2 separate regions of the Homo sapiens genome follow, and region 1 is linked to region 2. Evidence: fine-mapped expression QTL. Tissue or cell type: whole blood. Region 2 holds a variant in brackets; the other region holds the start of a gene. All regions are shown on one strand. Distances are between the middles of the regions.

Evidence for each region. PIP is the estimated chance that this variant, and not a neighbour inherited with it, causes the effect.
Region 1: OR6N1 starts here. The variant in region 2 is fine-mapped to the expression of OR6N1 in whole blood (INTERVAL, PIP above 0.99).

Annotation. Positions count from the first base shown.
Region 1 is chr1:158,767,542-158,775,655 of GRCh38, reverse strand. It overlaps OR6N1 (olfactory receptor family 6 subfamily N member 1), which reads left to right and starts at 3,461. Exons shown (of 2, transcript NM_001005185.2): 1 at 3,461-3,635. It overlaps OR6N2 (olfactory receptor family 6 subfamily N member 2), which reads left to right. Exons shown (of 2, transcript NM_001005278.2): 2 at 1-1,434.
Region 2 is chr1:158,841,673-158,849,786 of GRCh38, reverse strand. It overlaps MNDA (myeloid cell nuclear differentiation antigen), which reads right to left. Exons shown (of 7, transcript NM_002432.3): 2 at 7,369-7,653; 3 at 6,372-6,508; 4 at 5,665-5,832; 5 at 3,784-4,200; 6 at 1,871-2,059; 7 at 285-597. The coding sequence starts at 7,633. The coding sequence ends at 550. Among named protein-coding and RNA genes, the nearest start is that of MNDA, 14 kb to the right of the region's middle. The variant ACAAC/C (reference allele first, on the strand shown) is at 4,564.

The DNA.
Region 1 (8,114 bases), 74 kb after region 2:
TAATGTAATAATATTCTACCCATGCTCCTTTCTCCTACTCTCATTCTATTCTAATATATTTTCCACATAAAATATAAAGTAATGTATTTGAAATCTGAATTGTATATACCATTTTATAAAAACATGAGAAATTCTCAATTGCCCTTAAGATAAAATTCAAAGCCTCACCATACTTTATAAGGCTATAAACGGAATTCTTCCCTGCCTTCCTCTTCAACATAGATTCATACCTCTACTCCCTCAGCTCCCTCTTTCCTAGCTACATGATTACTCTTTCAGGTCTTCAAATACATTATGGATTTTTCTGGCTTCAGGATCTTCACTCCGTTTTTTCCCCAACATTTCATTTGGTTCACTCCTCCTAATTGTGTGATTTTCTGTTCAAATATCAATTTCCAGTGATGCTAGCTTTGAGAGGACTTCTGAACACTCAGTCTAATTTATGTCACTCATTTTTATCTCTGAAGTATGTTTTGCTTCTCTTCAAAATATGTATGGCAATTTATGTGTTTGTGGACATTTATGTATATATACATAGATATAGTTTGTCATTCTTTCCTACAAGTATCTATAAACTAGATTTGGTCTCAAATTATTTCAGATTTTTTATTTGTTGTGTGTCCAGAAACTAACACAGCACCTAAATAGGATGAGTATTCAATGCAATCGTAATGAATGAAACATGTGATGAATTTTACCCACACCTGGTCAATAATATATTTGGCCTTTAACAATGACATAATGATTCTAATCATTACTGAAACCCACTGTTCTATAGAATGCATCGGTCTTCCCTATTTGTACTCACCAGTTTTCTGCACATCCCACCTCAACTTGTCTCACATCTGCCTTTTGAATTTCCTTGGATAATACTGGTAACTAGTCCTTGCTTAGCTACTGTGCATCATACTAGGTTAATTTTCTGGATCTGTATTTTTTTTTTTCACTCACAAACTTTGGTGGGCATGTAAGCTATCCCTAGATAATATTCATTTTTAACATGATATGGTTATGCGTAAACATAAATTTTCATGTCATTTGGGAAAATGCATAAGTATAGGATTGCTAGGTCACACGATAAATGTATGTTTATAATTAGCTGTCTAACTGTTTTCCAAAGACTAGTGCTTTTTGGGTCCCTCCGCTGTGGTACAATGTGGGGCATGTGTAGTGAGAGTTCATTCAGCCTGGGCAGCTTTCCTGAGCTGTGGGAATGGGCTTGTGATGAACCCCAGGCTTCTGTTTCTCATTGCTGCATGTCTATGAGTAACAAATCTGCTTTTCTTGATTTGTTGTGTGTTTTATCTCAGCAGGTTCATGAACTAGGTAGAGAACCTTTGCATATATATGTATGTCCTTTTCTCCAAATCCTCCCTGCTGTCATCCGCACTATTTTATCATATATTTTTGTAAAATAAACACACAGTACATTGCTACTATTTTTGCTATATACAGTCATTTTCTGTAAACAGTGGCGGTAAAAGACATTGCAAGAGGGAGAGAGGTTAGTGAGTACTGAGGAAGTCAATGGAGCTGCAGTTTCAAGAAATGTGATACCATAAAAAAGACAGGCAGTTACGTGCTGAAGTCTGCTCATAGTTTTTGGGAAATGATTGACAACTTATTAGAAATTCTGTGGAACCAATAGCTTGGAATCAGATACAGTGGGAGTATTAGCACTATGCCAATCAGCAAATGTTATAAATCAGGAGCTTTTTAAAAATGGCAGGCTATCTCAAAGCTAAACAATGCAGGCACTAAAGTGGTAAGGACAGATTTAATCAGTAATATACAAATATACAAATATATATACACACACAAAAACACACACACATACACACACATAGACATAAATTATTTTGGTAGCCTTGAATTTTCTCAGGCAGGCACTTAAAGAGGTGCTAGGATAGACTATGGCCTTGAGTTCTTAGAAACTATGTTAGTGTTTGTTTAAGTCTTTTAATACATGTGGTGGGGGAGGGAAGATGGGGAGGGTGGATGAAATCATTTTTGCTGACAGTCTATAGATTTTGTAAGCCAAGGCTGAGGTTTAGTCAAAAAGAGAACTAGAGTTCAATGAAATTGAGAATCTTTGTTAGAGGAGTCAGTTGTTAAACATTTACCCCAACACATATAGAGACAGAATATCATTTGGAGGGGAGGGTAGCAGAATTGATGGATATATTTTAGGAATAGAGGATATTCTAGTTCACAGAAAAGAAGTAATTGAAATGAAACTGACAGATGTGGAAAATTTAATTTAAAAGGTAGTGGGTATTTAACTCTTAATTGCCTTATAGGGATTTAGAAAACCTGAATAAACCTCTAGTCATTAAGTAAATAAAATTATTACTTAAACTCTACGTATACTAGTCAAAAAACAAAATAATACTTTGACTCAAAAATTAAGTTATTAGTTAAATATCTATTTACCACAAACAAAATATTAAATACTGGCAACTCAGTTTGAAAAAAAAAAATCTTCCAGAAATAAATTAGGAGATAGAAAAATATAAACTTTGATGAAGAATATTGAAAGTGTGGGTGGGATGGAGAAAGTGACAAAAATTATTTAATTCTTCTCATAGTTCATATTATAGTTTGTAAGTACTTTTTTTTACATTATCACATTTGATTATTAATTTTATCTGAGGAAAGTAAATCTTCCTTATACTTTTTAAATTTTTTATCTGACAAATAATTATATATGTGATGTTTTGATACATGTATGCAGAGTAGAATGATCAAATTAGGCTAATTAACATATTTATCACCTCACATATAGTACTTATCATTTTTATTTTGTGGCAAGAGTATTCAAAATCCACCCTTCTGGCAATATTGCCAACCATGGCTCAGTGAGGTGCCTAATGTCTCATAAGTATTTGGAAGAATGGCTGGGATTGTATCCAAGATTCTGAAGCAGCACTCTTTACGGAGCAGATAACACTAGAGTAGAGAGGAGACTGCAGTGTGTAAGACAACATATAACGGCTATAAATATGAGCAACAGACAAGATTAGGAGTCGGTCTTGATGATATTTATGTCCCCAGTGTCTCCCTGTCCTCACCCTTTCAGGGTCAAAGAAGGTCAGTCAAATTTTATAAAGATCCTATCATAATTGAAAGTTGTATGCTTACTCCCAAGTCATGCAGTACAGGAACCCATTTGAACCTAGTTTTCACACCAGTTATTGTTATTTACTAAAGGAAGTAATTGCCTTGAGACATGTTCTATCTCAACTTGGACTGGTAGTTATTGTTGTAGTAACTAATAGGTAATGAAGGACTACTGGCTAATGAACTTGCTGTATGTCAGTTCCCTTCCTGAGAGAGCACTTTAGTGACCCCAGGAGGTCTGCTCAGAAGGCCCATGGGCTTCTGCCTCTATGAGGTCCCTATCAAGAATCCAGGTTTTATGGGAGAAGAATTTGTTTTATGGTTTAACTTATTCCCACAGGTTCCATCAAAGTGATAAACTTCAACCCCTCCAGGCCCCGGGAATGGCTGGGTATAATACTGCAAATGAGACATAGGAAGTATACAGGAAGTTCTCTTCAAACTTCGGACTCCGAGCAGTGGCTGGGCTTCCAGAGTCAAGCTCTAGCAGAGCACTCCCCACCAACAATCTCTAGGTAAGACTTTATCAAGCAGGCATTTTCATCTTCACATTCCTTCTTAGTCTGATCACTAAGAGACCTAGAGGATTCAGAAATATGGAGAGGTTTTTGAATAATCAGGGTCCATAAAACACATAATTGAAACACAGAAACTATTTTTAAAAACAGATATTCTGCTTTTCAAATGCTATAGTGAAGAGTCTGGCTTCAAAATTAGTAAATTGGCTATATTTTTAACTAACTGTGTAAACTGGAACAAGTCTTCTCCCCTTTCTGGATCCCAGTTTTTGTTGTTTGTTTGTTTGTTTCGTTTTTTAAATGAAGACGTTGAGTGTGATAATCTCTAAAATTGCATCTCCCTTCTTACCCCCAGATCTTTGGCCCTATGCCTAAACAATTATGAACTATGAATAATGCAGCTGTGGTATCTGAAGAAAAGAATGCAAGGCATATATTCTAAAAGCTTTCTAGAATTAGGGGAATAAACTATGATTTCAATGGACCTAAGTAAGATAAATGTAAATTTGTATATGTGGTAGGTTTTATGAGAGCCCTGATTCCAATATCAGGAATAGGAGTAGATGAGTAACTGATGAGCTAAAGAGCTGCACAAGTCATCTCAATTGCCCTCTTTTTCATTACCCACCATAACTCGGATATATCAGGCATTGTGCTAAGTACTCTAGGAGGTAGGACATGGTATGAAGTTTCCTCATTAATTTCAAAAAGCTCACAGAGAGTTGCCTTGGAGTGATAAGACATATGCCTGGAAAATAATTGCAGTGCATTACAGGATATAATTGGAGGGACAGTGAGAAAGTACTACTGAGAATTTAGAAGTGTGAAAGAACAGTATTTAACTTAGATGGTCAGGGAAAAAAATGACAGACTTGAGCTAGAAAATGATTCAAGTGTCTTCAGATTGACAAAAGATAAAGCATATTTTTAGTGAGGGTACACTGCAAACAAAGGAGTCTGGGCTAAATACAGAAACCCACTTGGCAAACATTGAAATTGCTATAATGGTGATGAAAAGAATGTTTGAACACATGACTCTGGACCAGAGCAATAGGGTTGTTTCACAGAGCAAAACAAAGAATAATGGTGAAAGCCAGGTTTCTGGTCATTGGAAAGGACAGTTGTAAACTAAAACATTTCAAAAATGGAGAGAACTGTCTTATGGGTCAGGAAGCTTCCAGTGCTGTAAATCCAGGCAGAGGGTTGATGCCCATTTGTGGCGATATGGATTCCTTTATGAGTGAGAAGATATGAGTTTTTGCTGGGCTGAATCAAAATTAGAAACATAAGTACAAATATGAAGTTTGATACACATGATTTATCCTTCTATTTTAGCCTTCCTTTTTGTGATATTTAAAGGTTTTTTCTTTTTATGAGCTGTTGGAAATATATAATACATTTCAGATATTCCAACAATCCAGTGAAATCCAAAATTATGGGGGCCACTGGAAAGTGATAGTTCCTAAAGCTTCTCTCAACACTAAATTAAGGTTTATCAGTACTAGCAGTTACAATCATAATTAGAAATAATAAAATAAATTTTTTAAAAAGGGAAAATCATCAGTATTTTTTGCCATCTTAAAGGGGGTGTGAAAAAGAGAAGGAAATGGTCCAAACCTCTGAGAACTGTGAACTTGGAAGATGAGGGAGTTGGGGGTGCTAGTTTTCCGTGGAAAATAATAATACTTGATCGGATCCTGATGACTTTGATTGCTTAGGCAGAGTATGGAGGGAGTGAACAACAGCAGGTCATTAATGAGTGATGATACAATGTATAGTGTGATAATAAGTCTTTGGAGTTATGTGGAAACTCTACCTTCTGAGAAAGGAGACGACAAAATACTGGCTTCTCATATTCAATCTTCTGACCAGCCATCCATGTAGATCTGAAAATTTAGTTAAGGGCTCACAGTCTAGACAACTCATCTGTGAGTGGGACTGGAGGCCAGAAAAGGAAAGAGGCAGCTCTAGAATAGAACCTTTTATTTATATTTAGAAGGGAAGGAATATAGAACATCTAGAAAACAAGGGTCTGAGAAGAAGTAGAAATTTAGGGATAATCCTTTATAGAAGGCAGGTATGCATTCAAGACTTGAAGAAAACAGAAGGCAGAATTGGGCAGTGGATAGACATGGATATGCGGTGAGAAAAACTAAGACAAAGAAATTTTGGATAATAAAGTAATTATTCTGAAGCAAAATCACCCATATAAAAGTTTGGCCCGGAAGTAGTTCTCTGGAATCTAAGTAGAGAAACATCCTATATTAAGTCTTGGATTGAGAAAGGCTTTTGTATATGGGATGGACATGCTCCCTAGGTTTAGAAAAATGCCAAGAAAAATCAGAGTAAACAAAGTTAGTTTGGATGAATTTCAGGATCCTGGAGAGGGAAGAAGTGATAAGAAGACCGGAGGGCAGAAGGAGAAGACTCGGTGTCTTTCATAACTCTCTGCCTTTGCACAGGCAGTTCCATTTGCTTCAAATACTTTTTATTTCATTTTTCCATCTAAAAAATTCTGACAGTTTCTTCACTTCAAATAAAAATTATATCTTCTGGCAAAGCATGGTGACTTATGCCTGTAATCCCAGCACTTTTAGAGGCCAAAGCAGGTGGATCACTTGAGCCCAGGAGTTCAAGACCAGCCTGGGCAATATGGCTAAACCCCATCTCTACCAAAAACACAAAAATTAGCCAGGCGTGGTGGTGCACGTTTGTAGTCCCAGCTACTTGTGGGGTGGAGGTGGGAGGATTGCTTGAGCCCAGGAGGTCAAGGCTACAGTGAGCAGAGATCCTGCCACTGCACTCCAGGCTGGGTGATAGAGTGAGATGCTGTCTCCAATAATAATAATAATAATAAATTATGTGTTCTATGAAATTTTCCTGATTTATCTCCATATCCAGCCCATGGCTTGTAACTCCTACTGCATATGCAAATTAGCAGTTATCTTAATAGATTTGCATATTAATTACATAAATATTTATTGAGTTGTAACTATATTTCAGACATGGCTCTAGGCACTTGACATACACCAGTAAACAAAATAGAAAAGAAAAAAATCTTTGCCCTTAAGGAACTTATAATCAAAGAGGAGAGAACCAATAAACAATAGGAATAAGAAATAAGTACATTTTACAGGTTAGAACATGACAAGTCCTCTGGAAAAAAAGTTAAAAATTAAGTAGAGAAAGGCAATAGCAGTACAGAATATGGATGTAAGGATGGAGGCACACTGCAGTTATATAGGGTGGCCCAGGTAGTTGAGCTGGTGAAATTTGAGCAAAGATGAAATAAATGAAAGAGCTATCCAAATGGTGAAAGAGATTCTAGAACAAGGAAAGAGCTACAGCAAAGGTTTTAAATGATATGTCACTGAACACATTTGATCGATGGAAACGCAGAACCTAATTTAGAATTTAACAGGATCACTCTGGTGTGTTGAGATGAGGCTACAAGTGAACAAATGCAAGTAGGGAGATCTGTTAGGAGTCAATTACAGTAAGAGGGGAGAGATAAAAGTGACTTGGACCGAGGTGGTCAAACATAGTCAGTTCCTGGATATATGAGAGAAAGATAGAAACAAGGATGACTGCAGGAGTTTAGCTTGTCAGTTGAAAGATTGCAATTGCCATCATTTGTGATGGGGAAGACTAGGGGTAGAGACCCCAGGAGTTCAGTTTGAGATGGCTCTTCGACTCCCAAGAGGAGATGTGAGTAGGCAGTGAAATATATGAGTCTGGAGTAGCAGAGAAAAATATCGCCTGAGATATGGATTTAGATGTCTTCAACACATTTATAGTGTTTAAAGCTCTGGTATTGGATGGTATAGAGCAGAGGAGTTGAGTTTATATAGAAGAGAAAAAAAAAAGATTAAACACTGACCATGGGCACTGTGACATTAAAAGGATGGGGCATGGAGGAGAAACTAAAGTTGGAGAATGAGAAGGAATGACTAATAAGATAGAAAGTAACCAAAAGTATAGTACCCCGAGAATCAAGTCAAGGAAGTGTGTGAACAGGCTGGATAAATCAATACTGTCAAGAAACAGATAGTCCAAGTAAGCTGAGGAATGAGAAATGACCATTGGATCCAGGAAATCTTAGATAATTAATGTCTATGAGAAAGGAGGTTTTAATGGAGTGGTGGTAGTATAAATCTAATTAGAGTGGGTTTAAGAAGAAACTTAAAGAGAGGCATTAAAGGCAATGCGTATAGCCGACTCTTGGAAGAGTTTTCTTTTAGGGACATAGAAAGAAATAGAGCAGTGGCTGTGGGATGAGTAAAGAGAAAGAATTTAAGGCTCTTGCTTTTTTGTTTGTTTAGTAGATGAGAATAATAGCATGTTTTTACATTGATAGAGTATTCCATGAAAGAGCTGTATAATAGTTAGTTGTTTCTCTATACTCTGTATTACAATATTAGTTTGTTAACATCAGGTGCCACATTTTATTTGTTTAGTCCCTGTTCTAAGTATAAT
Region 2 (8,114 bases):
CCCCCTTCTGGAGGACACAGTTGCATAAAGGAATCCTTTCCTCTAGATCTGCTACTTCCCTAGGCCACAGTATTTGTTCATTTAAGCATGGGCTACATAAATTTAGTCACAGCCTTTACTGCGGACTTATCCTCTGAAGATCACAATATAGACTCCAATGTGGATAAGGCCCCATGTGTCTCTCCCCATCTCTAGAATGTGCTTCACAATGCACAAAGTACTCAGCCTCAAGCAGCTCACTATTGATCTTAACAGAACGTAGACAAGACTTTGGGAAAATAATGTCCTTCAAAAAAAGATATTTTATTTTTTGCCTCGTGAATGTCATAAAAGCAAAATGTAATATCTAAAAAAAAGGAAGAGTATAAGAAGAAAATTTTATTCCAGAAAGCAAACTAATCTATAACTCAGTTATAAAAGCTCTTAATATGCTAGAATATATCTACTGAAACATCATTTAAATGAATTACTGAAATTTACAAAATCACAGTTATTAACAACTTAATTGTTTTAAGCGGAAGTTGTTTGTTGCATTTCAGCTTTCATATTTCAATTAACATTCATTGGTCCTTCCTTGTTTTTCTTGGCCTTGATGACCTTTAAAGAGAGATAAGAAAGACATAATGAGACCCTAGATATTGAAATGAAGCTCTGCTTATAGTTCTCCTTTCACCTGCCATATCTTTTCTTCCCATTGGCTACATTATTCTCCTTATCCCCTATGAAAGCTCGTTAGTCACAAAGTTATGAAGATCTACCTTCAAAAAACTCATTTTCCCCCCATTAACTAATCTCTGTTTGTCTTTTTCCTTCCTGAATGGATTTTTGAAATAAACTTCTGTGGTATCCTGGTTAACCAACTACCCATTTTTTTTTAAAAGTTTCGATTTGTAACATTTGCAGAGTCTGGTGGCATACATATTTTCACATGGCTGATTTCAAACTACCACATGTTTAGCAAGCAGTGCATATAATTCCTGAATTTCCAACAGTAAGCTCTCTTCAGTAAGGATATGAGTGAATCCAGCACACAACTTCTAATAGATATCTCTGCCCCAAGCCTAATTGCTCTGTAATGCAACTCCATAGATAGACACCGGAATATTTTTTGCTAAAATATCAAAGTGATCAGGCATTCTTCTGCATAATTTTGTTTCAATTTTTCATGTATTTTCAACAATAAAGTTTCCATTAATTTACTTTTGAAAAAGCCACACTTCTATTTCTTTTTCATCTTTGGGCCTCAGTAGTCCCTTTTTTTTAATCTTTGGGTCCCACAGTCTTCTGCATCTACTGAATTTCAGTTGTACAGAACTCATTACGCTATGTCACACTTTTGGAATTTTCATGTATCATTTCCTTTGCCTAAAAGTCCCTCCAATTTTTACCTTCCTAAAAATAAAACTATCTACCACAGATCAGTTTATTATGATGTGCCAGGTTGTGAGATAATTAATATGTATACATTGTCTGAATGTTTAAACCATCCCAATGAAGTGGAGACTTCCATTATTTTAGAGGACCAATGAAACTGTTTCCCCAATATCAGCCAACTAGTGCTTCTTAAATCCAGGATTCAAATCAGATCTGTCTTATTCAGAACCCTTGCTCTTGAGCCCTATGTTCCCTGCCGCTAGACACATCTTTAAATCAATTAACACTAGTATTGTATCCTTTCTAGAGCTGTATGAATGCCTTTACCTTAATATCCTTCTGAAAATCTTCCAGTTACAAATGCAAGGGCATTGTTTAGGTTCTCCTTCCACTCGCTGGACTCTCTGAGTAATACATGAGGAACCTGGTGTTCCCAAAGCCTAAGCAAAATTATTTGCCTCTTTAGCAAACTCATTCTCCTCTATCCAGTTCCCACCTTGATGAAGCTGTGACTTCCACACACCAGTTTCAGCTTGCGGTCAACTGTTCTCAGTTGAAGGCAGAAGAGTCGAAGTTTATCTCCTTTCTCACACTTGATATTGTGCCATTTTCCACTCCCCACTACATCCATGGATCCTGTATTATCCTGTATTTCATAAATTGTGTTCTTCTTGTGTACGCTTTTCTGCAAAAGAAGATTAACATCCTGTTTCTGAGAGGATTGTTAGTATCATATAGATGAGAAAGAGTCTCATGACAAAGTTAATGCAATATGCACGACAGGAATGACAGGTACAGATCATACATGTGGCTTGGCCTGCCATCTCACAGGGTCCATCTTTTATTATCCAGCATTTTTTTTTCCTGCTTAAGGTATTTTTCTTTCTGCAATTATACAACAATAAATATTTCCCTCTTTTTCTCCTGCTACCACCTTCAGATCAGCTGAGAGTAAATAAAGCACCTAGATATAGAGGAATCAAAAATTCCTATAGAACTTCTTGGCTCATGGTCCTGTGGAAAAACAAATGTATGCTTTCTACAATTATTCATTCAGTAGATTATGAGGAATTTCACTTTATTATTATTTTAATTTTTAAAAATTTCAATAGCTTTTGGGGTACAAATGGTTTTGGGTTACATGGATTAATTATATGGCGGTGAATTCTGAGATTTTAGGGCAGCCATTACCCAAGTAGTGTACATTGTACCCAATATATAGTTTTGTATCCCTCACCTCCCTCCCAGCCTCCCGCTTCTGAGTCTTGAAAGTTTATTAGATCACTCTGTATGCCTTTGTGTACTCATAGCTTAGCTCCTCCTTACAAGTGAGAACATACAATATTTGGTTTTCCACTCCTGAGTTACTTCAGATTATGAGAAATTTTAAAGGAAAAATCTTCTATAACACAATCATTCATTCTTTCTCAGCCTTCCTCATTACTTATTCTTTTCCAATATCTTGTCCCCATTGACCTAACTCCCTCCATTCATACTCTGTAGTGTTTCACACACTTAAGCTATTACTCATCAATTCTGTAATTGCATTTATAAGCAAGATCTCTTAAAGAGAGTGTGAGAAAATGTGGAGGTAAATTTAAGGGGCTATATTGAAAGACATGTATGTAGGGTTATAAAGCAGTCAATCATATAAAATGTTAGTTGAGTTCATAGAAATGTGTAATGTTTTAGAGTGGAGAAAGGGATGGAATGCATTATCCTAACTAGCATCTTGAATTTGGACATGGACATATCAATAAAACTCTGTGCCTTGGAATTATTTTTTTTTTGTAAATAGTATGAAGAGATTGCCTTATCCTTTAAGTATCATGGAATTCAATATTTCTCAGTTGTTCAATGCTATCTTCATAAATAAATGAATAAATAAATAAGATAGAAGGGCAACTGATCTAAGCACAAATGTTTAGATTGTATGGATAGCTGTTGAATGTATTTGCATTTATGAGCATACCAGCCAATCCACTTATTACTCCAAAATTATGTCACAACCAGAATTCAACCTTGGTAGCACAATTCATTACTTAAAATAAATTTATCAAAACTCACAGTAAAATTATCAGTGCTCATTGGGATGGAGCTGAAAGAGATGATGTTATTAGCTTGCTCCCGTTGATTTGGACCCTGTATTGTCCTAGTTCATTGTGGCTGACAACAGATCATTACTGCCAATATTTCTTACTAACTTTTTTTCAAAGTCCCTACATTTATTTTGGCGTAAGAAAGTTAATAGGTCACTTAGTCCTATTTCCTATTTTGTGGGACAACTTCATCACTATCTCTAGTCAATATAAATTCTTGTGTTCCAATATTCAGACAGTAAGTCTGGCAAATTAAGACATTTATTTCCAGGTAATGGTAGAGAAAATTAAAACAAAATTAAGGGTTTACCTTTTGTAACATAAACAACCCATACACCATTGTTCCAGATGCTTGCTTGTAAAGTTGACTGATCTTGGGAGTTTTATTTGCTATTTCGATAATTCTGTTTGGGACCTCAAAATTTTGATTAAAGTCAGACACAGATGATGCTTCCTTTATTTCCATTACTCCTTTACATTCAGAGTAATCAGATATGGTAATGACCTTCTTCCTTACAAATTTCTCTTTCAAGTTGATGTCGAAGACTTTCACATGGAAATATTGAGTCTTACTGGCCACTGTAGCATGAAACATTGTGCTTTTCCCATTTTCTGGGGACTCGTATTTAAATGGCGCTGTTGCTTTCAGTACCACCACTGTCACTGGGTCGTTTTGGGGAACATTTCTTCTTGCATCCACCTGCCGTTGGGCCTGGGTTTCCTGATTCTGTGTTGGGCAGACACAAGAAAATAAACTTAAAACTTTGAGCAGGAGGCCGGGCGCGGTGGCTCACGCCTGTAATCCTAGCACTTTGGGAAGCCGAGGCGGGTGGATCACGAGGTCAGAAGATCGAGACCATCCTGGCTAACATGGTGAAACCCCCATCTCTACTAAAAATACAAAAAAAACTAGCCGGGCGTTGTAGCGGGCGTCTGTAGTCCCAGCTACTCGGGAGGCTGAGGCAGCAGAATGGCATGAACCTGGGAGGCGGAGCTTGCAGTGAGACCAGATCGCACCACTGCACTCCAGCCTGGGCGATAGAGCGAGACTCCGTCTCAAAAACAAACAAACAAACAAACAAACAAACAA[ACAAC/C]AACAAAAACTTTGAGCAGGAATACAAAGTCACTCTGCACGAGTGACTCTGCAGAGCTTTCGACCCAACAACTTTCACAGATATTTGGAGCTGGGGGCTAGGCTAGACAGGGATTACTGAACAGAAAGGAAAGGCACATGAGCTGGTAAAGTTTAGCTACTGAAAGCCTAAGGTAACAGACAACAGGCTTGGAAATTAAATCACCCTCATTGACTCAGAATAATCTTCCTGAAGCAAAGCATGATCTTCTGCATGAACAATCTAGAGTAGCAGATGATGAAAACATTGTTGTGAAGAAACTTTAAAGAAAGATTAGAATATAATAACAAATCCAAATATCTCCTCTACCTACTGAAATTATCAAAGACAATCAACAAAGTGAAAACAACTTGGACAGCATTAAAAATGAAGAACCATGCCCACCAGAAGCCTCAAACATCATTAGATGTTCTAATGATCAAACATTCATTAGAAATTCTAATGATCACTAGTGTACTCTGCCATTTTGAGGGCCAAACTCGTTTGTTTCTTCCCAAGAAACAGTGCTTTTACAAGTGGAAAGACTTGGCCTGGCTAGCATGTAAGTAGTCTCAGGTAGAGGATTTCTGGTTAGAGCTATGTCCTCGACTGTGTATACACAGCATTTCACAGTGGCTAAAATGCTAACAACAATGGAAAAAGGACAAGTTTGTTTATCTCGTATGTCCTCTCTCCACAGTGTCCTGGCCTATTTGAGTTGCAGCAGAATACTTTTCTGAAGAGAACGTTGGCAGATCTGTAATAGGAAGTGTGGGGAGCAAAGATGAGCCATGGGCTTGTATGTACTGGTACTAGGAGCCAGGCTACTTACCTGCACAGACCAGAAATGCTTAGTGGTCTGTCCTGGTGTTTTACACACAGTGATTACCTGTAGGTAATTGGACTTTACTTGCATGTGGCTTCTCACCAATGTAAACAAGTTATCATAATATGGAAAACAGTTTTCCCACAGCAAATCAGTAATATGAAGAGTTATGCATGAGAGTAACAATAGTAACAGTGGAATGCACTGTGACTGGGTTAAAAAAAAATGGAGAAGAGGACCAGGAAGAGTGTACCGGAGTAAACGAAGTGTTGGATGGAGTTGATGATGAGGTCTGGGGTAGTGGGGGATGATCCACAGCTGCAGATGTGCTGGCTCCTGAGGGACCTGGGGGCTTACTCTGCTCTTGGGACACCTTATTCCTTTTGGCTTCAGTCTTTTCTTTGTTTGGAGTTTTTCTTTTCTGAAAGTAGTTTAATTTTCCTGTTAATGGAGTTTAGTATCAAAAGAAGCAGAGCAAGTTTTCATTTTTTCATTACAACATAGTAAGTTCTATTTATGTTGGATGGGATGTCCTTGGAAACCCCAGGGAATTACAATCTGTCACTTGAAGATATGGACAATAGATAATATTGGGCATAGATTGTTGCACTAAAAAGGAGATGGATGATTTCAACAGATGCATTACTGTTATCACCACTGTGGTGTGATGAGAAGAGCACTGGACTTGGAATGAGAAAATCTAGATTTGTGTAAGGATGGGCAAGATGTATATCCAATATGATTATTACCCCATTTTTATAATGGAGATGATAATATATTTATGTCACAGAAATTTTTTATTACATTTTTACGATACCTAACTCTTTACTCATCACAAAGAAGATCCATAATTACTAATTTGGTAAATCTAAGCTGTGTTGAGATATTAGTAAAGAGCCACGTGCCATAGCAGAGTATCTTCTGTGAGGCTTCAGTCCTGCTCCTCTTTCTCAAGCTTACCTGAGCTACAGGAATCCTCCCTCTTGCTTCCGATGTCAGTTTGTTTCTTGCGGTGGGTGCAGGTGCCGCAAGACCCACTTCTTCCTGGTTTATTTTTTTCACTGGAGCTTTTTCTTGTGTTTTAATTTTCTTAGCAACTGACAAAAGAAAAGAAAAAGGGCACAATAGGCCTAGAGTGGAATAGCTTATCTAAGACAGCTGAGGCAGTTTCAATATTACCTGCTGTCAGCTCCTGCATGAGAGTTCGGATTTGCCTGTTACCTCTACTGCATTAACCCAGCCTGGCTCCTAGGAGGCCAACAGCAGCATGGTAGGCATAGGCACTGTCTCATTCTCCTCAGTGCTTTACTCACTCCTCCCCTTTGCAGTGAGAACATGCTTCCTTTCCTGTGAACTCCATGTGCCTCAATCAACCCTTTCTCAGTCTTGTTCTCCTACCATTTCTTTTAAATATCTAAGGCTTTCATGATGCTGACAGGCTGGTCATGTTCTGTGCAATATCTGTTCAAATGACAGAAATATGACCTGAAAGGAAATATGATCTGAATTGTAATGTGGCAAAGTGCTAATATTGGCTTTTGAATTAAAAAAAGAACAGTGATTTATTAAGTGGAAAAATTCTACACGTCTCTTAATAGAACTATTGCTGCATAAATTGGTTAAATATAAATATTTCAAATAAAACACATTTTTTAAAGTAGCTTTTTTTTTCATTTTCTGACATTTTTGATTTACTGAAACACTCACCGTCTCATAAATCCCTGTCTTTGGTTTTTTATCCTTACCTCAAATACATTCTTCTAAATATATCAATCTCTTTCATATGAAACAGAATGTTCTAAATTGCCAACTGGTCAGTCTCTGAGGTGCCAACATCCCCATGACTGCTGAGTTATAAATTGGAAAAGGGATGTACCAGCTATGACCAAGGTGGGGTTCTACTGAAGACTGGGGAGACTCAAGGCAGAGTAGCTATGTGCAAGGTTTTCTCTATTACCTTTTGACTTCTCTTTTCGAAGATTGTTAACAAGGTTTTTAAGTGATGGCATATCTTTGGCAAGTTCTATTAGTTTGTCTAGACAGGCAACGCCTTGGAACTTTTTTTCCATCAAATCTGTAATCTTAATTCTGTTGTATTCCTCTTGCATTTTTGTAGTTAGTCCTAAATCATAGGCCAGTAAGGACTTAATTGATGTAAAATGATAATCATCCATGAGCTCAAATCCTTTCAGCAAAAGAATTTTCTTGTATTCATTCACCATTTCTGATGTTATAGCTTGGCCTATAAAGTAAAAATGACACACAACATTACACATTTATGCAGACAATTTTAAAAAATGAGATATGCTTTTGTGAGTGAGTGTCCCAGGCCAAAATGTTGTCCTTGGATGCGTATAAGAAAAAGGGACTAAGTTACCAGATATGTCACTGTGAACAATGGATCAAGACTTGCTTTATTAGGAGGTTCAGTGAAGTTCTTCCCTTTTAATGTTGATAAGTTGGGACAGAGGTGTATGTGGTGAAATGATGTTTGGAAACAGGTAATTGTTGCAGTATTTATAGTATGGGTTTTGTGGTGTCAAAGTCCCTGGTTCCTCTTCTGATATTTTATTGGGGCCTGAGCCTATCCCTCAATGCCTACCTCTTGGTTCCTGATTCTTCCCTGATTCTTCCCTGATTCTTCCTGGTCATCCACTATGACCAAAGTGGCCTAAGTATAAATGGGCTGCAGCCACTCACCTT